3 separate regions of the Homo sapiens genome follow, and all the other regions are linked to region 1. Evidence: fine-mapped expression QTL. A gene starts in region 1. Each other region holds a variant in brackets. All regions are shown on one strand. Distances are from middle to middle.

Evidence for each region.
Region 2: its variant is fine-mapped to the expression of NOP14 in whole blood (TOPMed, PIP above 0.99).
Region 3: its variant is fine-mapped to the expression of NOP14 in cerebral cortex (GTEx, PIP above 0.99). The same link has a PIP of 0.9 or more in cerebellum.

What each region holds. Positions count from the first base shown.
Region 1 is chr4:2,960,382-2,967,385 of GRCh38, reverse strand. NOP14 (NOP14 nucleolar protein) reads left to right here and starts at 3,980. Exons shown (of 18, transcript NM_001291978.2): 1 at 3,980-4,261. The coding sequence starts at 4,067. GRK4 (G protein-coupled receptor kinase 4) reads right to left here and starts at 3,815. Exons shown (of 16, transcript NM_182982.3): 1 at 3,264-3,815. The coding sequence starts at 3,315. RefSeq lists silencers at 3,143-3,192, 3,363-3,792 and enhancers at 3,255-3,788, 3,789-4,322, 5,353-5,422.
Region 2 is chr4:2,939,369-2,945,363 of GRCh38, reverse strand. It overlaps NOP14 (NOP14 nucleolar protein), which reads left to right. Exons shown (of 18, transcript NM_001291978.2): 12 at 135-236; 13 at 1,138-1,291; 14 at 3,013-3,172; 15 at 3,635-3,782; 16 at 5,719-5,837. The region is part of intron 2 of NOP14-AS1 (NOP14 antisense RNA 1); the gene reads right to left. Among named protein-coding and RNA genes, the nearest start is that of NOP14-AS1, 6.8 kb to the right of the region's middle. The variant C/T (reference allele first, on the strand shown) is at 2,755.
Region 3 is chr4:3,008,092-3,015,095 of GRCh38, reverse strand. GRK4 (G protein-coupled receptor kinase 4) reads right to left here. Exons shown (of 16, transcript NM_182982.3): 7 at 5,385-5,448; 8 at 1,268-1,408. Among named protein-coding and RNA genes, the nearest start is that of GRK4, 48 kb to the right of the region's middle. RefSeq lists enhancers at 1,319-1,378, 4,464-5,663. The variant G/A (reference allele first, on the strand shown) is at 3,411.

The sequences.
Region 1 (7,004 bases):
TATGATCATTTCACGCTTCCTTCATGTCCCTGGCAGAGTGACACACAAACACTTTCAGTGCAGCATCATCTGCCAACATTCCTGAAAGGAAAAGGCTCTAACAATCTTCTGTTTAGACCATCTTAGTCTGTTCAAGCTGCTCTAACAAAATACTATAAACTGAGTAGCTTATAAATTGCAGAAATGTATTTCTCACAGTTCTGGAAGCTAAAAAGTCCAAGATCAAGACAGATTTGGTGTCTGGTGAGGGCCCACTTTCTGATTCATAGCTGGCATCTTCTTTCTGTGTCCATGGTAGAAGGAGTGAGGGGTGTCTCTCTAGTTTCTTTTATAAAGGCACTAATACCATTCACGAGGGTTCCACTCTCATGACCCAATCACCTCCCAAATGCCCCACCTCCTAATTCCATCCCCTTCGTAGTGAAGATTTCAACATAAGAATTTTGGGGGAACACAAATATTCAGACCATAGCAGGGACCAGAGAGGGAGGGGGGATTGAGACTGACTGATTCTATTTGAAATAAATCCAGGAAATGACCGGACTCACTAATAATATTAAATCAACATTGCGCTTCTCAGGACCAGAATATAACTCTTGTGCTACGTTCATTCATTTCAAAGGTTAATTTTCTAGTATATGAGCCAGTGAAGCTAAACAAGGAGCTGTCCATGAAGTTATGTGTCCAAGAAGACACCTCCTGGTACTTCCTGGGAGATACTTTAAAGTAACAAACACAGTCATCAACTTGGGAAAAAGCCCTAAATTATAACCAATACTCAGCATGTATCCATGTATATCTAATATTATATATTCAACTTCTCTAACCATTAATCAAGCTATACATAATGATGCTTTCTGACCACAGGAGCAAATACTCTCACTCAATGGGGACAGGCCTCATAATCACACTACTGTGGAGTTAATATGAGATATTTCAGGGAAAAAATTAAAACTTTCTTTTTTTTTTTTTTCGAGACGGAGTCTCGCTCTGTCACCCAGGCTGGAGTGCCGTGGCGCGATCTCGGCTCACTGCAAGCTCTGCCTCCAGGGTTCACGCCATTCTCCTGCCTCAGCCTCCCATGTAGCTGGGACTACAGGCGCCCGCCACCACGCCCGGCTAATTTTTGTATTTTTAGTAGAGACGGGGTTTCACCATGTTAGCCAGGATGGTCTCAATCTCCTGACCTTGTGATCCGCCCGCCTCGGCCTCCAAAAGTGCTGGGATTACAGCTGTGAGCCACCGTGCCCGGCCAAAACTTTCATTTTTCAAACTATCACTGTGGTCTTAGGTTTTGTGACAGAATCTGGTTTTATGTTATTTAGCATTTATAGAGCACTTGTATTTATCTCATTATCTAATCTCTGCAGCATTATAAGGAAGGCGGCTTGGTATAGTTCCTTTTTGTAAATTACATGCAGATAGGAAGGTAGTGTAAAAAGAAAACTGGCTTAGCTTCAATCTGACTTCCACTAAGGATGATTATTTTCCATGACCTATTTGGAGTTCACAGTCAGGGATAAGAGGCACAGTCAAATGCTCCACTGAAAATGGCTGCTGAGAACGCATACTGCTCTGGGACTCCCTGATTATCTTAAGGGAAAAAGATCCCATTCTCTTCCCACCCATTCTCAGTTCTTCTATTCAAAATAGTGTGAGTTGGTGCACAAAAATACTGAGAAGATGAAGTCTTTGTTTTAGACTTTTTTAAAGAGATGGTCTTGCTGTGTTTTGCCCAGGCTGGACTCTCCTGGGCCCAAGTGAGCCTTCCACCTCAGCTTCCAGAGTAGCTGGGACTACAAGCGTGGCCGCCACCTTCGGCTCCAGACTGTCCTTTAAATATGCATCGCCGGCTGCTGTGGCATCTTCAGTCGGCATTTACACTGTCCTGGAGCACAGTCCGAGCAGAGCTGCTCCATCACGCAAGGAAATAGAGGAAATCAGCAATTCCGTAAGAGTGACGGGGTGTGAAGAACTACCGTGGCTAGCACAGGGACTTGAGGTCCGAGGCTCTGTCGCCAGCTCTCTTGAGACGCAGGCAAGGGAGACATGAGGTCCGAGACAGAGGATTGCACAGAGGATTGTGGGGGTCTCCCGCTGAAGGGCTGGACCAACTGATGCTTTTGTGGCGGGATGCAGAGGACTAGAGAGACCAGCATGGGTGAAAACAGGAGGATATTTATGTTAAGGTACGCACCAGCTCAGTGGATTCACATCCAAAAAGCTGAGCCTTGAACAAAGACTAAGCAGGATTTTTATAAGCAAACTTACAGAAGCAAAACAAAGGCAGTTAATCATATAATGACAGGTCACATAATCTATAGCATAACTGATGACTTGGCATAACTTGTGGCCTTGCATAGCTGGTGGCCTTGTAGCTGCGTTGAAAGAAAAAACCAAGAACTGGCTAAACACAGATATTTGTCCTCTTTTTTTTTTTTCTTCACCCCTGCTCTGGAAGGGGGGTGTCTGGAGCCTATTCCTTTGGATTCGACTTCTCAAACAGAACAGCGTTATCTTATAACTGTCCTTAAAGTGAGCTTGCTAAGCAAAAGAAAACTTGTTCTTCTTTTCTTTTTAACCCTTGCCTTGCCACATTCTGGGCCTTGGCTTTTTCTTTTCTTGGAGTGAATGAATGCAGTACTTATTACTATTTTTAAATTTCTGCCTCACTTTAATAATGATAAAAGGCTGAATTTTTGCCAACTTGTCCATCTGTGACCACGTCGTGCTAAAGCACACTTGACACACCATAGAGCCTCAGATCAAACCTCAAAACCAAGCAGCTATGTTAAAAATAACATTGCCCTACAATCATTATCGGAAGGTTCTCGCCCAGAGTAGTTCCCAGGCTGCTATTCTTTGTCCCCCTTAAGACCATAAAGACGCCGTTCTTTTTTGGTGGGACAGGTTGTCCAACACAAGCAGGACACTGCCTGCCGCATCCTGAAGCAACACTGTCACCGAGGTCACACCGAGAGGACAGGACAAGGACACAGGGCAAGACTAAGAAGAGCAAAGCGCAGACTTCTCTCATCTGGGCCAGGAGATGGGGACTGGGACCTGGCCCGGGCAGCCTGACCACACTGCACAGACCCCGGCTCCGGCTCCGTGCAGATCTGGGTTCCCCCAGTGGGAGGTGTCGGGGCTCTCCAGGGAAATCGGGGTTCTCCGGGGATGTCGGGTTCCTTCAGGGGGGCCAGGGTTCCCCGGGATTCGGGGTTCTCTGGGGGGGGGGTCGGGGGCGCCTGCCGCGCACCCACCTTGACGCGCTTTCAGCAGCAGCGAGTTGGCCACGATGTTCTCGAGCTCCATGTCCTGGCGCCGCCGCCGCCGGCGGATTCTGCGAGACCGAGGAGACTGAGGAGGCGGAACAGGAGGAGACGCCGCCGCCCCCGTGCATAGCTCGCCGGGCACCACCCTCTCCTCGAGCTCCGGACACGATCCCGGGAGGCTGCTCCGCCGCCACCACTGCCACCAAGGGCGCCGCCGCCGCCGCCTCCGCAGGCCCTCACCAGCAGGGGAGCGGTCGGGGCGAGGGGAGGGGGCAGCCCGACCGCGGCGGGTCCCAGCTGTCACCGCTGCCGCGCTATCGCCCCGGTTCTTCTTGGCCCCATCGCCCTCGCCTCGCGCGCGCAACTCCCTCCTCAGTGCCCTGCCCCCGGGCAGCCCCGAGTCAATGCCGTGGCTCACTTCGGACAGGGGCTCACTGGCAGGGGCGCCCGCCGCGGCCGGCGACCCGCTCCCGGGCGGGCTCGGCGCTAACGGCTTAGCTGAAGAGGGAGCGCCCCTCGCCGCCGCGGCCGGGGCACTACAGCTCCCAGAAGGCCCTGCGCCAAGAGTACACGGCGGGCCGCGGCGCGTGGCCTGCTGGGAGTTGTAGTCGCTGAGCCTATCGGCGAGTAAGCCGAGCCTGCGGGCGCGGTGTTTACTTCTCGCGAGTCGGAGGTGCTGCGCTGTTCTCGCGAGACGAGGAAGCGGTTCCGCGGCCCGGCACGTGTCTTAGGGTAGCGCGCGCCTGTCTCTCTTCGGGTCTCGGGCCCTTGGGCGCAGCGGGGCGCGCGCCATGGCGAAGGCGAAGAAGGTCGGGGCGCGAAGGAAGGCCTCCGGGGCGCCGGCGGGAGCGCGAGGGGGCCCGGCGAAGGCCAACTCCAATCCGTTCGAGGTGAAAGTTAACAGGCAGAAGTTCCAGATCCTGGGCCGGAAGACGCGCCACGACGTGGGACTGCCCGGGGTGTCTCGCGCACGGGCCCTCAGGAAGGTAAGCGGGGGGCGCACGGGGAGCCGGAAGGCAGGATCTGGACCCCACGCTGCTCTCGGCCGGCTGCGTCCTTCTCGGTGCGTCGGTTTCCTCGTTGAGCGGCACAGGCCGTGACAGGCACACGGCACTGACTTGATAGTCCGAAAGCCTCTGCTGTTCTCTGAGCTGGAGTGACCTGGAAACTCTCGCCGTCTTGGAGACCCTGCACTCGTGTTATTTCGGCGACTCCTCCAACCGGGTCAGGCCGAGTCAGTCACTTCGGGCGGCGCCCTGGACCAAGCTGCTTGTTAACCCTTCCGCGTTTACTTTGAGCTCTGCAGGTTTGGGGACGGTGGATAGGGGCTGTGTAGGATGCTGCGTTTGATGTTTCATCGGCTCTCTCCCGAAGCGCGTAACCTTGTTCCTTGGGAAGTAACTCTATGGAAACTCATTGCTTCCTAGTTTTTTTAACTTTTTTTTTTTTAAATTTTCACTGAGGAACATACATTAGCAGGTTGGTGAAAAAATTAAGGCACAGAAAGGACAAGTGCATTTCCTAAGGTCACGCACCTGGTAAGGGCTGGGCATGCATTCACATTTCAATATCTACAAAGCCTTCTTGCTACCCCGAGCGCTTCTGTTTGACCTCGCTTCTAGGTTCGGGGAGATAAAGGTAAATAAGACTTGCCCTTGCCTTCATGAGCTCCTGATCTCTGTTCATCACAGTGTGCAAGCTGGATGGTCTTTGAATCAAAACACATATTATCCTTACTGCGCGAAGACGACAGCCTGTATAATGAATAGGCAAGATAGACTTACAGCTGACTTCGATAGGAGTCCCTCATTACACACCCCCGGGCCGGGGTGGGAGAATAAGGTAGTGTGGTTCCCTAGAAGAGACACATTTGTCTTCACCACTGAAGCCTCAGTTTTCTCATTTCAAAAGTAGAGATGATAGTATACATCCTACCCCTCGTGGTGGTTTGTGAGAATTAAGTAAGATAGCACATAGAGCACACAGCAAGTGTTCTCTAAATACTGTTATTCTTAACCTTCTTGGCTTGTCGTTCGAGTCCCGCACAGTCTGGCTGTTGTCCTTGCTTCGCCTCTTGCAACTCAGTTTGTCCAAAAGGTCTGCCTTACCTCCGAAAGTCTCTAAAGGGCCAGCTCAGGTTCACCACCCAAGCTATGTAACCCAAATAGGACAGGTTGCTCAAACTTCTGGTATTGAGCAGATCCACCTCCCTGCCCTGTGCTGAAGGCCTGGGACGGGGACGGGAATTGCTGCTCCTTTTTGGATCTCCAATGCTTGGCCCTTGGAAGAAACACAAATATTTGAAGAAATCAAAGATGGAACCTGAGTGCCTTAGGAGATCCCGGTCAGGAAAAAGTGTAATAGTTAGGAAAGTCCAAAAATTCTTCTAGAGGGAGTTACAGTCAAGTTTTGCAAGGGGAGTGAGCTGTTCATGGGCCCAGGGTGGGCAGAGGACACACATGCAAAGGCACATTGTCCCGGTATGGTGAAGTGTGGCACTCACAGCTGTCTGAGGGACAGCAGGTCGTCCAGTTGACTCCAAGCTTGATAACGCGTGTAGGGGCCGTGAGGCCGGCGCAGGAGGCCTGGGTCTTTTCATGTGGGTTAGTCCCTTAGAAGTAAACAGGCTGCCTCAGTTGGCTTCTCCCCTCTGGTCAGTTGTAGCACTCTGAGGCACTCAGTCTGGCAGGAAGAGGGCAGCCCCCAGGTGCCAGTCTCAGGACATTGCTTTATAGCTGTGCCTCAGTTTCCTTATTTCTGAAATAATTTATAAAATAAGTTATATTAATGTAGTTCTTAAATCAGTAACTATATTAATATAGTTACTATATATTAATATACTAACTATATTATTAATATAGTTACTATATATTAATATACTAACAATATTAATATATTAATATATTATTATAATATTAGCATATTAATATATTATTGTAATAGCATATTAATATATTATTATATTAGTATATTAATATATTATTATAATATTAATATATTATTAAAATATTAATATATTATTATAATATTAATATAGTATTAATATAATATTGATGTAGTATTAATATAATATTGATATAATATTAATATAATAATATTGATATAATATTAAAATAATATCGATATAATATTAATATAATATTGATATAATATTAATATAATAATATTGATATAATATTAAAATAATATCGATATAATATTAATATAATATTGATATAATAATATAATAATAATGTAATTATAATATTAATATATTGATAATGTGATTATAATATTAATATATTGATAATGTGATTATAATATTAATATATTAATATTAATGTGATTATAATATTAATATATTAATATTAATGTGATTATAATATTAATATATTAATATTAATGTGATTATAATATTAATATATTAATATTAATGTGATTATAATATTAATATAATATTAATATAATAATATATAGTAACTATATTAATAATATAGTTACTGGTCCCTTACAGTTGGTCAGGCCTTGTGCCACACGGTTTACATTTAATCCTCACCGTTATGAGGGGGAAGTACTGTTATCCCCATTTTATGCCGTAAATTCCATATGATGTCACAACATCTATATAGTTTAAGAAAGAAAGAGAATCACAATAATGTAGAATAACTCATATTACGTATTTATAGCCTAAGGGCTGTTCTTCACTAAGATTTACCCATAGAATCATATTCCAGATAATGAGAACTAATA
Region 2 (5,995 bases), 22 kb after region 1:
GGCCAGAGCTCTGGGCCAAGGAGATGCACCCTCTCCTCGCCAGATCCTGTTCTTGGCTCCGGAGTGTTTGCGGGGAGGGCATATGGATGGACTTCATTTACCTTCTTTAACCTGTGGTAACACTTTCTTTCCAGCTCATTTATTTGAAAATCACTGGGCTGCTATTTCCAACTTCCGACTTCTGGCACCCAGTGGTGACCCCTGCCCTCGTGTGCCTCAGTCAGCTGCTCACCAAGGTGCGTTCTCTCCACATGCGGCAGGGGTCGGCCTGCTGCACCACGGGTGGCCGGAGCCACAGCCCCTCGGGGCCTTGTGGAACATGAGTGTGGCTGTTTAAGGGCTGCAGAGACCGAGCACTGCGGTTAGGCCAAAGAGGGCCCATCTAAAAGAGCCCCGGCTCGAGCAGCCCCAGATGTGGGTGGGAGTGGGAGGGCCTGGTTTGGCACCTCAAGGTTACAGATGGTGCTACCCCAGAAAACAACCTTTCAAGTTAGTGGTGAAGTTATCCAGTGTGATGATAAGGGCTTTTGTTCCCTTTTTGGCTTAAAAAGTTCAAGCTGTTCCTTTTTCTTTATTAGGCATGTGATTGGTACATGCTTAGTGCAGTAATCGTACGCTCTGTATGGGTGGAAGGAACTTTATAATCAGTATAGCTCTGGCCAGGCGCGGTGGCTCACGCCTGTAATCCCAGCACTTTCGGAGGCTGAGGCGGGCGGATCACCTGAGGTCGGGAGTTCAAGACCAGTGTGGCCAACATGGCGAAACCCCGTCTCTACTAAAAATACAAAAATTAGCTGGGTGTGGTGCCACATGCCTGTAATCCCAGCTACTCGGGAGACTGAGGCAGGAAAATCACTTGAACCCGGGAGGTGGAGGTTGCAGTGAGCCGAGATTGTGCCATTGCACTCCAGCCTGGGTGGTAAGAGTGAAACTCCGTCTCGGGAAAAAAAAATCACTAAAGCTCTTTATCTTGTTTTCATCTCATTTGATGCTCTCGACACTGCTATAAGGTGCGGGGGTTCCCTCTGTACTTGTGAAGCTCAGTGGGGTGCGTGGTTCATCAGGGAAGCCCGGTGGTCGGCCTAGCATGGCATGACATCGTCCCAGGACAGTAACCCCCCATATGTTCCTTTCCAGTGCCCCATCCTGTCCCTCCAGGACGTGGTGAAGGGCCTGTTCGTGTGCTGCCTGTTCCTGGAGTATGTGGCTTTGTCCCAGAGGTTTATACCTGAGCTTATTAATTTTCTTCTTGGGATTCTTTACATAGCAACTCCAAACAAAGCAAGCCAAGGTGAGTTGATTTGAGGGAGGTTCCTACAAATATGTTATACTTTAGAATTTTTTTAAGTAGTTCATACTCATTGTAGAAAGTTTAGAATATGCGAAAGTAGAGGAAACACACAACCTGCCACCCGCCGCACTGTCTGTCCCTCTGTGTGAGCGTGTGCACGCGCCACATGGGGAAAAGCAGTGCTACCGGTGACCTGTGCTGTCCAGCGTGGTTGCCAGGGGCCAGAGTCTGAACTGAGACGTACCCTACCTGTGACATATGCCCAAGTGGCGAAGACTTAGTGTCAGAAATACTTAAAATATCTTAATTTTTTGTATTATGTGTTAAAATCATAATATTTTGGTATTTGGGGTTAGATAAGGTCTATTGTTAAAATCAATCTTAACTTTTTACTTTTTCTCACGTGACGACAAGGCAGTGTGAAAGTTCTCGTGCAGCTCACACAGGCCGCGCTGCTGTGTCGCTTCTCTTAACGCTCTGAATTCAGGAGCGAGGGCGGCAAGAGCAGTGTTGGGATGAGGAGCAGTCTGCACACTGGCTGCCCTCCTGGGCCCTCACCCCAGCCCCTGTGCTCCTCCCCCTTCCCCTGATGCCAGCCCTGCTCCTGGATGCTTCCTCAGCACTTGCTGCTTCCCTCTGGGGGGTGAGGAGCTGCACAGCCTCTTCCTGAGCTCTTCCATGTCTGTGGACGCCTCTCCCAGCCTGACCAGAGGTTGGACCTCAAGGCTCAGACCCCTGTCCTCTATTTCCAGCTCACCGTGCAGTGCTAAGCGCCTGCATGTCCAGGGGACTGACCTGAGGAGCAGGTGCTGTGGCATCATTCACACCACCAGCAGAGTCCCTTCCAAGAGGGGTCTGGCCCACTCTTCCGGTTCAGTGCTCCCATTCTGCCACCACCTGCCTCCCAAGGCTCCTGTCTGTCAGGCTCGGTGCTGGGCGCCAGAGGGGCGCGGCCGCCCACATGCTCCCTGCCTCCGGGAGAGCCACCTGTAGATAGCTGCAGTCCCACGTGTGAAGGGCTGTGACGGAACAGGCTGGGCACAGGTGGAGTCAAGGAAGGGGTGGGCATCTCGGCTTTGGGGAAGTGTGGGGCGGGGCCTGACCCACGCCTTCCCCTCTCGCTTGGCCCGGCACCTCTGCCCCACTGTACCCACTCTCCACCCCTCCCCGTGTAGCCACACCCTCGGCCTGGATTGCCCTTCTCCGTGGCGAGTGAATTGACTCCTGCGTCCTACAGGCCTTTGCTGACGTCTGCCCCTCAGGCCTCTCCCGCCCTCCACCGTCACCCCCGACTGACTCTCCTGTCTCCCTCCTGCCCCTCCACTTTCCTTTCTCGTGTTCTGTCTGGTCCATTTGCTCCTCTGGGTGCTGTGCACTGCCTGTCTCCCCGACAGGGGCAGGGACTTCAGTCTGTTCCCGGATGTGGCCTGAGCGCCTCATCAGCCCCATGTGTGCCTAGTAGG[C/T]CCCAGGAAGTCTGTGGCCAGCAGGCCTCTCAGGCAGGATCAGGCACTTGGCTCTCACCGCGCCCCCTGCCAAAGCTTTTCCCCTCCCCTGAGGTGTCCCTGCCCACGCTGAAACCCTCAGTGTCTGGCACAACCCAGAAACATAAAAATCGGTGTGCGTCTGTTAGAGGGTGAACTTCCACAGGCTCGGTGCCGCAGAGCCTGCTGGGAGCCCAGTAATGTTCAGGCCATCTCTGTCCTGTCGCACTTGGAATTCAGGTTCCACTCTGGTGCACCCTTTCAGAGCGCTTGGGAAGAACTCGGAACTGCTCGTGGTGTCTGCTAGAGAGGATGTGGCCACGTGGCAGCAGAGCAGCCTCTCCCTCCGCTGGGCGAGTAGACTGAGGGCCCCAACTTCGACAGAGGCCAATCACATCCGGTATGTGAGGGGACCCCGCTTTGGGGCCTGTGCCCTACAGCGTCCCCAGAGGCAGGAGAAGCCACTCGTGCTTTCTGATGTGCTGTTCTTAGTGAACTTGCCGCCCGGCCGTTTGGTTTGATGGAGGCCGAAAGCCTTTCTGAGGCATGTTGGCTTGCTGTCCCTTTTTCTTTTCATTTTCAAAATACATTTGCTTGATTTCACAAATCATAATTTGGAACCAAAAATGGAGCCGCCCCATCCCAGCTGGCGCTGCGGTTCCCACAGCCTCCCCTCCTGCGTTAGGCCTGACCCTGAGCCTGCCTTGCCCGTGGTTGCATGGGCCCAACCCTGGCCGGCCAAGGTGGCCACACTGGAGTTTTCAGCCTAGTGGAAGTGGGGAAGTTCATTTTTGCCACGTTATTGGTTTTGTCAGTGACAAACAGAACAAGTTGGACCTCCTCTTGCCTCCTGCCCTCACAGACTGTCCTGCCTGGCTGTGGGCCTGGCCCTGCTGAAGCGCTGCGTGCTCATGTACGGGTCCCTGCCATCCTTCCACGCCATCATGGGGCCTCTCCAAGCCCTCCTCACGGATCACCTGGCGGACTGCAGCCACCCGCAGGAGCTCCAGGTGAGGCTTCCCGGCCACTAGGGTGCTCTGCCTGGGCTCAGACATGTCCCTGAGCTGGGGCCAAGCTGGTGGCAGTCAGTCATTTGATGCTGCAGCTGTAAGTCAACACCATCTTTGCAAAATCACAAATATGAAGGGAAGTAAAATCATAAGAGTGGGCAGTGACGGTGAGCAGTGCTGGGCTGGAGTAAAGCAGATGCTGCATCTCAGGCGGCAGCTGGGAACTGTCGCCTTGTGTGCTTCCTCCAAGAGGCCGCACGGAGGGTGCACCAGCGCCCAGGGGTCAGCCCCTGCCAGGCCTGGACAGTCAGCTCTGAGCCGCGCTCTGCAGTCCCGATGGGTTTTCCAAGGATGGTCTCACTATCCTGCACAAGGTGACAGGAAGCCCCAAGGGACAGTCTCAGCTGGACCCAAGAACAAGTCTTTGATGGCACATCCTGTCCTCTACAGGCTGCTCCAAATTCACCTATGGCCTACCCGCCTCCCTGCCTTTCACCCTGACCCTGACAGGCTGTACCCTGCATCCACTTCCTGCTTGACATGGCTGTGGCTTGTGCCTTTCATCCTGCCCCAACCCTGCCCCTTATTGGCCCGCACCAGCCCAGGATGCTGCTGGAGCCGAAGGCATCAGTGCCATCTCCGCAGCTACCCCCACAGGACCGTCCCGCACCACCAGCACAGCCCTGGCAGCCTTGCCTCGTGCCTTCCCCTCATGCGCTCCGGCCTCCTCGCAGGCCTGGCTTCGTCTCTGGAGTAGTTCTCTGCACCTAGAACTCCCCACAGCCATGCTGCTCGCGCCCACACCCTTGGGAAGCCAGGCCTTCCCTGGCCCACACTGTGCCGTGCTCCCTGCGTTTTGTCTGTGGTGCTGACCCCCGGGCACGTTACACCGTCCTTGTCTCTGCCCCACTAGGATGAGAGTTCCATGAGGACAGCAACTCGGCTCGTTCCGGCCAGGTCCCTGGAGCATAGAGCAGATAAGCTAGCTATCACAGACTCCGTCGCCTGGTCAAAGGCTGATGAGGATGAGATGTGAGCCCTGCCCCTTATCCTGTATCCACTTCCTGCTGGTGTGGCTGTGGCTTGTGCCTTTTATTTAAAAGAATTTGGGTTGGCCTGGCCGAGGGGCACAGCAGGTCTCATGGTCTCGGTAGACTGGGCCAGTCAGGCCCTTGAGTTTGGTCTCCATGGAGACGAGGCATTCCGGCACTCGAAGGTTACATCCACATGGGCCCAGGAGTGGCTGTATCTGTGGGTGCAGCCAGGGTTCCAGGACACACCTGTGCAGGAGAAAGCGGGTAGGACCAACCTCAGTGAACTACCTTTCGGGAGATTCCTCAGAAGCCACCAGCCAACTCTTCTGGAAGCCAAGGTCTTGGTGAAAATGGGTCTTAACCATCTGGTTCTGTTGGCTTGAAAATAAGGTCAAACTGCCAAGACTGGTGGAAACCCTGCCCCGCCTAGCACCCAGCGTCAGTTTGCACACTGGGCTCTAGCATGCACACGGCCCCCCGCGGCAGAAAGGGGTTCTCCTGTGAGCCTTCTCACGAAGCAAGTGGCTCACGGCCTTTCGTGCCAAGTTTGTCTGGGAAAGAGGGGTTCTGTTGACGTTTCTGGCTGTGAGGAGCACAGGCTATGGTGACCTCCAACTCCCCAAGTCCCCTCCTTTCAGAGAGTGCTCTCAGGGGCCAGCCCACGGCCCTCCCTCTTCAAGAAGACAGTGGCTTTACTTCGTTCCGGCTGTGCCAGGACTTGAGCAGCCACAGCCTTGGCTTACCCCCCCGCCCACCGGTAGGCGCACAGCAAGGGCACCATCCTGCTGCAGGGAGCTCGCAGCACTGTCCTCACGCTGCCTTGACACCACAGAACCCGTGCGTGGAGCTCAGGGCACGCAGCAGGTGAGTCATCGCAGAGTCGGGGATTTCGTGTTTTTCAGGAGCTGTGTCAGAGCACACTGACCGAAATGGAAAGCCAGAAGCAGCTCTGCCGGCCGCTGACCTGTGAGAAGAGCAAGCCTGTCCCACTGAAGCTTTTCACACCCCGGCTGGTCAAAGTGTGGGTGCTGGCAGCATCTCCCTGGGAGGCCAGGGCTGTGGGCTCAGTGGGAGCTGACGGGGGGCGTCTGCCAGTTCTGCAGTTGAGCAGATGACTACGGAGTGAAGCCACACTCCCAAGCAGGCTCTGGCTGAGAGGTGGGGACAGACTCTTGCTTC
Region 3 (7,004 bases), 48 kb before region 1:
GTTCTGTCCTTTCCAGAAAGGTGGGAAGGTGGTATTTGGGCTTCATACAATTGGGATATGCTAGTTGAGGGCCTAGCGGTAAACTTCCCAGAAAAAGGAAAAGACGGAAAGCAGATTGAGGCCAGAGGGAGGAGGCCCACATGAGAAGGGGGCTAGAGAAGGTATCCTCAGCCAGACGTGGTAGCTCACACCTGTAATCCCAACACTTTGGGAAGCTGAGGCAGGTGGATCACTTGAGCCCAGGAGTTCAAGACCAGCCTGAGCAACATAGGGAGATCTCATCTCTCTCTCTTTTTTTTGAAACGGAGTCTCGCTCTGTTGCCCAGGCTGGAGTGCGGTGGTGCAATCTCAGCTCACTGCAACCTCCGCCTCCCAGGTTCAAGTGATTCTCCTGCACCAGCATCCCAAGTAGCTGGGACTACAGGCACGCGCCACCAGGCCCACCTAATTCTTTTTGTATTTTTAGTAGAGACGGGATTTCACCATGTTGGTCAGGCTGGTCTCGAACTCCTGACCTCAGGTGATCCACCCTCCTTGGCCTCCCTAAGTGGTGGGATTACAGGTGTGAGCCACCGCGCCTGGCCAGAGATCTCATCTCTAAAAAATAAGAATAAAAATAAAAAAATTAAAACCTAGTTGGGCATGGTGGTGTGTGCCTGTGGTCCCAGCTGCTTGGGAGGCTGAGGTAGGAGGATCACTTGGGCCTGGAAGGTTGAGGCTGCAGTGACCCAAGATCGTGCCATTGCGCTCCAGCCTGGACAACAGAGCGAAACCCTGTGTCAAAAAAAAAAAAAAAAAAGAGAGAGAGAGAGAGAAGGTATCCTCAAGCACAGCCAAGTCACAGTGTCCCAGGGGCCAGAGAAATTGACTGGAGGCTGAGAGCAAACAGAGATAAGCTCTGGCTGGCTGTGATAAGGGAAAGGAAAGGGCAATTCACCAAGAAACACGGGTAACTAATGGACCTGGAGCCTCTGCAAGCTGGCAGGTGTGAAGAGTGACAGAATGGGAGGCGGGGGACTACAGATTTATAACAAACCAGAAGTTAGAAGCAGTATCACTCCTTCTATGTTTTCTAAGGTTTGAATAAGAAAGAAGAGAGCTGTTACTAAAAACAAAACTGTTACTAAAAAGAGCAAACCCCCACATAAACTCAGAAAACAAGAAATGACTTCCACGGCTTCAGTGAGCGTGAGCTGAGCGGCATGTCGGCTGACAAAAGTGCTATGAATCAAACAATGCACAGTGAAGACTAAGAGGAGACACTTACTACGAATCTACTTTGCACTTTCTCCAGAATTCTTTTCTCATTTAGAGCCATAGCTTCACCTTTCCTCTTCTTTATTCTTTTTTTTTGTAGCTTTTTGCAGGCATACATTTTTCCTGTGGCTCGCACTTGACAGGCGCAAACCTAGTTTAAACAGCAAAATAAAGGAGGTTTATGTCCACCTGGCATTTCTTAGGCCACACAAAGGAAGCTCTTTGCTTGATGAGACCCTCACTGGCAGAGACCAGCAGCAGTGCATGAGGAGCCGAGACCGTTTCAAAGGTGAGCTTCGTCAGTGTGAGTCGGCTCCTCCCTCAGTGATGCACTGTACTCTATCAACTCTAAGACAGTGTACAAATGGAACTAGTTGGCATAGGTGATCACGGTAAATGTTTAATTTTTAAATGTCCCCATATGTGTATTTTACTTTTTGTAAAAGTGCAAAAGTTTTAAAAAGTAAAACTGAAAAGATTCTTTTTCAGCTGGGCATGGTGGCTCATGCCTACAATCCCAGCACTTTGGGAGGCCAAGGCAGGCAGATCACCTGAGGTCAGGAGCTCGAAACCAACCTGGCCAACATGGCGACACCCCGTCTCTACGAAAAATAAAAAAACAAAAAAATTAACTAGGCATGGTGGCGGGTGCCTGTAGCCCCAGCTACTCCAGAGGCTGAGGCAGGAGAATCGCTTAAACCCGGGAGGCAGAGGTTGTAGTAAGCCGAGATCGCGCCACTGCACTCCAGCCTGGGCGACAGAGTGAGACTCCGTCTCAAGATTCTCCTGCCTCAGCCTCCCAAGTAGCTGGGATTACAGGTGCCCGCCACCATGCCTGGCTAATTTTTCTTGTATTTTTAGTAAAGACGGGATTTCACCATTTTGGCCAGGCTGGTCTTGAACTCCTGACCTCAGGTGATCTGCCCACTTTGGCCTTCCAAAGCGCTAGGATTAACAGGTGTGAGCCACCGCGCCTGGCCTAAAAAGATTCTTGATTTTTTAATTTAAAATGTCAAGAGTATAAGGAAATATATTTCATAGAATTCACAATTTTCATATCTTTATTCTATTACTTCTTAAAGTAGTATTTATGTATTATTTTAACTTTATGTCATGAAAAATTTCCAACATACAAAAGTGGAAAAAATAGTATCATGAGCCTCAGGTTCTGGTCCCCGTGCCTCTGTGTCATCAACATTAGGCTGCTGTTTCTTCCAACTCCCATCCACTGCACACCCCACAGGGGACTGCTTTAAAAGCAAACATAAGACATGATTTAATTTTATCTATCAATAAAATAATTTTGGTGGTAAAAGAAATACAAAGTTAATTGTGGAAAATATTGGAAGTAATAAGGACAGTGATAAAAACTCACCCGTAATTCCAAGATAATGACTGTTAATATTTTGCTCTATTTGATTTTGGGCCCACCTTCTTACATGGGTATGCAAGAATACATACCCTGTTCCCACCACTCCAGCCTTTCATGGCAAAACTGGTCTCGTATTGTAAAATAGGTAATATTTCCTAACCTCCTTTTAAAAAATCTTATTGTGTGACTATTTTCCTATCGTGAAATGTTTTCCTAAAATGTGACTATCCCAATATGTATTTAATCATTTTCTTACCATTAAGACTTGGCATAAAAATCTCTTCATATCTCTTTATCGTTAATTTAAAACAAATTATTCTAAGTGGAATGGGCAAATCAGAGAAAGGGAATGGAAAGCAGACAAGAGTGCCAGGCACTGTGCTGAGAGCTGGGTGTGAACACTCGCTGGCTCACAGCAGCCTGGCGGGCAGGGCCGATTATTTCCCTGCTAGAGATGAGATCACGATGGCGGGCCCAAGATCACGCTGCTGGAAGTGATACGACAGGACCCTGACCTCGGGTCTGCCCACGTCTGAAGTACGTGCTCTTTCCACTACAGTCTGTGGCCTAAAACCATGACAGCAGAGATGTCTACTCAATTCCTTTACCATTGTGCTCACTCAGGACCCTACAAATTCATTTCGGAGGACTTCAAGCATAAGCGAAAGAATTACTGTTGACAAAATAAAACCAACTAGGTTTGCTCTCTCAAGCCCACTGGAGGAAGTGCTAGCACTTGGAAAAAGCAAATGCACGATTAGAATCTGGATTAAAGGGCACC[G/A]AGGCTGTCCCCGCATGAGGGCAAGCAGGGCTCCTTCTGACAGGCATTCAGAGTAGGGGTGAGCTGACTGCTCACTGCCTCTGGGCCTTGACTGAGAGTACAACACCTCCAGAGCAAGTCTGTGGGAAACTGCCATGCTTTATTCGTGCAGCCAATCATTTGTTTGGGAACCCAAGTAAATCTGTTAAAAAGTAATCTATACAATCATAATTATACTGAGTCTTTCTTATCTTCTTTTTTAATGTATTTATTTATATTAAATATTTAAATAGAGATGGGGTCTTGCCATGTTGCCTAGGCTGATCTGGAACTTCTGGGCTCAAGCGATCTGCCTACCTTGGCCTCCCGAAGTGCTAGGATTACAGGCGTGAGCCACCGCGCCCAGCACCAGGTCTTTCACAATAGCTAAAATTTGCTAACATGTCCCTATTATATCCTATTAAGACTGACATGTTTTAAAAACTTACATGTGGCTATAATTAGACTTTCATTCCTTTGTAAACACATGACCCATGTTCCAGAAATTTTTCCTCTGTTCTTTCACAAAATCTGAGTCATTACATTTGCAGATCATTAAAGGCAGATTAGCAAGAGTCCAAGTAAGAAAATGACTTTCCTGTTCTAGGACATATTCAAACAGAGGGTGGATTTCTTACAGAAATATCTATCATGGAGGGATTAGAGCAAGCATACGATTGGATTAGGCAAAATATTCTTCATGGTCTCTGGAACTGTACCAGAGGGACAGTACTGTTACTTCTCCTGAAGTAACAACTACGTTGGCCAATTTCTTGTCATGTCAAGCTGCAGGTGCATAACAGATATAGGTGCAGTGTGCTGCCTCCTAGGTCAGCTTTCTAATTAACTTCAAGGCAATGCTAGTGGCTTTTCCTTTGAATTGTAATATGGGAGCAGTAATATCTGAGTCACACCCGGGCAGTGTAACCTGCTCCTGAGTTAAACATACAGTATTAGTTTGCCAATGGCTTGCCTGGCTCTTAGGGACTTAAAAGTTCTTGAACTCCATATGATCACTCCAGGTAACTAGTAAGGTAATTAATATCTCTTTAAATCCCCAGACCAGAACTGCTGCTGTTCTCCATCCACCAACTACAGTGGTCTCCATCTAGGAGACCCATCATATTTAAACAACACCCCGGGCCAGGCACGGTGGCTCACGCCTGTAATCCCAGCACTTTGGGAGGCTGAGGAGGGCGGATCACCCGAGGTCGGGAGTTCAAGACCACCCTGACCAACATGGAGAAACCCCCTCTCTACTAAAAATACGAAAATTAGCTAGGTGTGGTGGCGCATGCCTGTAATACCAGCTACTCGGGAGGCTGAGGCAGGAGAATCGCTTGAACTCAGGAGGCGGAGGTTGTGGTGAGCTGAGATCACGCCATTGCACTCCAGTCTAGGCAACAAGAGCGAAACTCCATCTCAAAACAAAACAAAACAAAACAAAACAAAAAAAACACCCCTCGTGAGTCTGTGAGTCATTTCCTTAGGATTTTCCCAAATTGACACATTTCCAAACACCTTTTGATGTAGGTATGAGGTACATACGTGTCCAAACAGAGTAGGGTTACGTAAGTATATTTACTAATTCACTCTGTACTATGTGAATTTGGGACCAGTCTTAAATGTATGGAAATAGAATCATGGAAATTCCACAATGCGGAAACAGAATCGTCTTTCCATCTGGGCAAAGTGACTGAGCTGGGGCATCAAGCATGGAAACCAGCTTCTTCAGAACTATGAGGTAAAAGGTGAAGTCACCAAGAGAAGGGATTCTTAAAAACCTTTTGCTCAAAATTCCATGTGGATTCTCACAGTTGGCAAAGATTATTCCCAAAACACCCACTAAGGCAACAGTGTACTGGGAGAGCTGATGCATTACCTGAAGCCATGTTCTCAGGACCTTGCTCCCCACCCAGCTAGCAGCGCTGCTATGAACTGGCTCCCGTTACTCACCTCTCCAAATCCGCCTTTTCCTAGAACTCTGTAATGTCTAAATGTGTTCTTTGTTACGGGTTGCCTAATCAATGAGAAAAACAAGTTTCAGGTCTCACATTGCATTGTTCTTTTAAAAAAGAAAAGTTTACTCAGCGCTTGTCTTCGCCTCATTTATTGAACCATTCTGCTCAAAGGGGATGCCCGGGACAAAGGGTGTCTGTGCTCAGGGACTGTGGCTCCCTCTAGCAGGATAGCTCTTGACTTGCTCTAAGAGCAATTAATTCATCTTTTTTTTTTTTTTTTTTTTTGAGATGGAGTCTCACTCTGTCGCCAGGGCTGGAGTGCAGTGGCACGATCTAGGCTCACTGCAACCTCCGCCTCCTGGATTGAGGCAATTTTCCTGCCTCAGCCTCCCGAGTAGCTGGGATTACAGGCGCCTGCCACTATACCCAGCTAATTTTTTGTATTTTTAGTAGAGACGGGTTTTCACCATGTTTACCAGGCTGGTCTCGAACTCCTGACCTCATGATTCACCCGCCTCAGCCTCCCAAAGTGCTGGGATTATAGGCGTGAGCCACCACCCGGCCAATTAATCTTAATTAATATTTAAGACACTGAAGCAAAAGGCAGAACAGTCTAATTATCCTCACTAACTAAAGATAGGTCTGAAACCAGCCAACACTAGGAAATATGTATGTTCATAACTCCTGGTATACTCTTGGGTAGATCCCTCTCAACCTGTCAGAAAGCAGGTGAAGAAGATGACGTATATACGTTGTGCCATCCTTTGAAAAAAGAACCTCAAAGATGTTTATACCCAGCGCCTCAAAAACAGCATGTATAAGCAAGAACTGGAAATTTAATCAATCAATAATAATAGTACTAATAATAACACTAGTAGCAGCTAACACTTTTTTTTTTTTTTTTGAGACAGAGTCTTGCTGTGTTGCCCAGGCTGGAGTGCAGTGGAGCCACCTCAGCTCACTGCAACCTCCACCTCCTGGGTTCAGGCGATTTCTCCTGCCTCAGCCTCCCAAGTAGCTGGGAGTACAGGTGCATGCCACCGTGCCTGGCTAAGTTTTGTAGTTCTAGTAGAGACGGGTTTCACCATTTTGGCCAGGCTGGTCTTGAACTGCTGACCTCAGGTGATCCACCCGCCTCGGCCTCCCAAAGTGCTGGATTACCGGCATGAGCCACTGCGCCCGGCCCACAGCTAACACTTTTTAAGCACTTATTTTGTGCACCAAACATTGTGCTATAAGCGTTGTACACACATTTCCCAGGTGATCCTAGCAATGGTCCAAGGAGGCAGATTCTATAATTACCTGTAATTTATAGAACAAGGACCTGCCACTCATACAAGCTAAGCCACTTACCTGAGGCCACATAAACAGTAAGAGGCTGAGCAGGGTTTAACTGCCAGGTCCCACCCATTGCATCCTATTCTAGCACTAAAAATCTAAGCTAAGTTTTATTTTCTAGCCACTGAACCAACAGGGATACCTGCCATTTTAAAAAGAGAGAACAGAGTCTATTAAATTAGAAGAAATGGTATAACACTAATACCTATGAAAATTTCTGTATAAAAATATCATATACAACTCAAAATTTCTAATTGTATTTTGACAGATGGAAAAG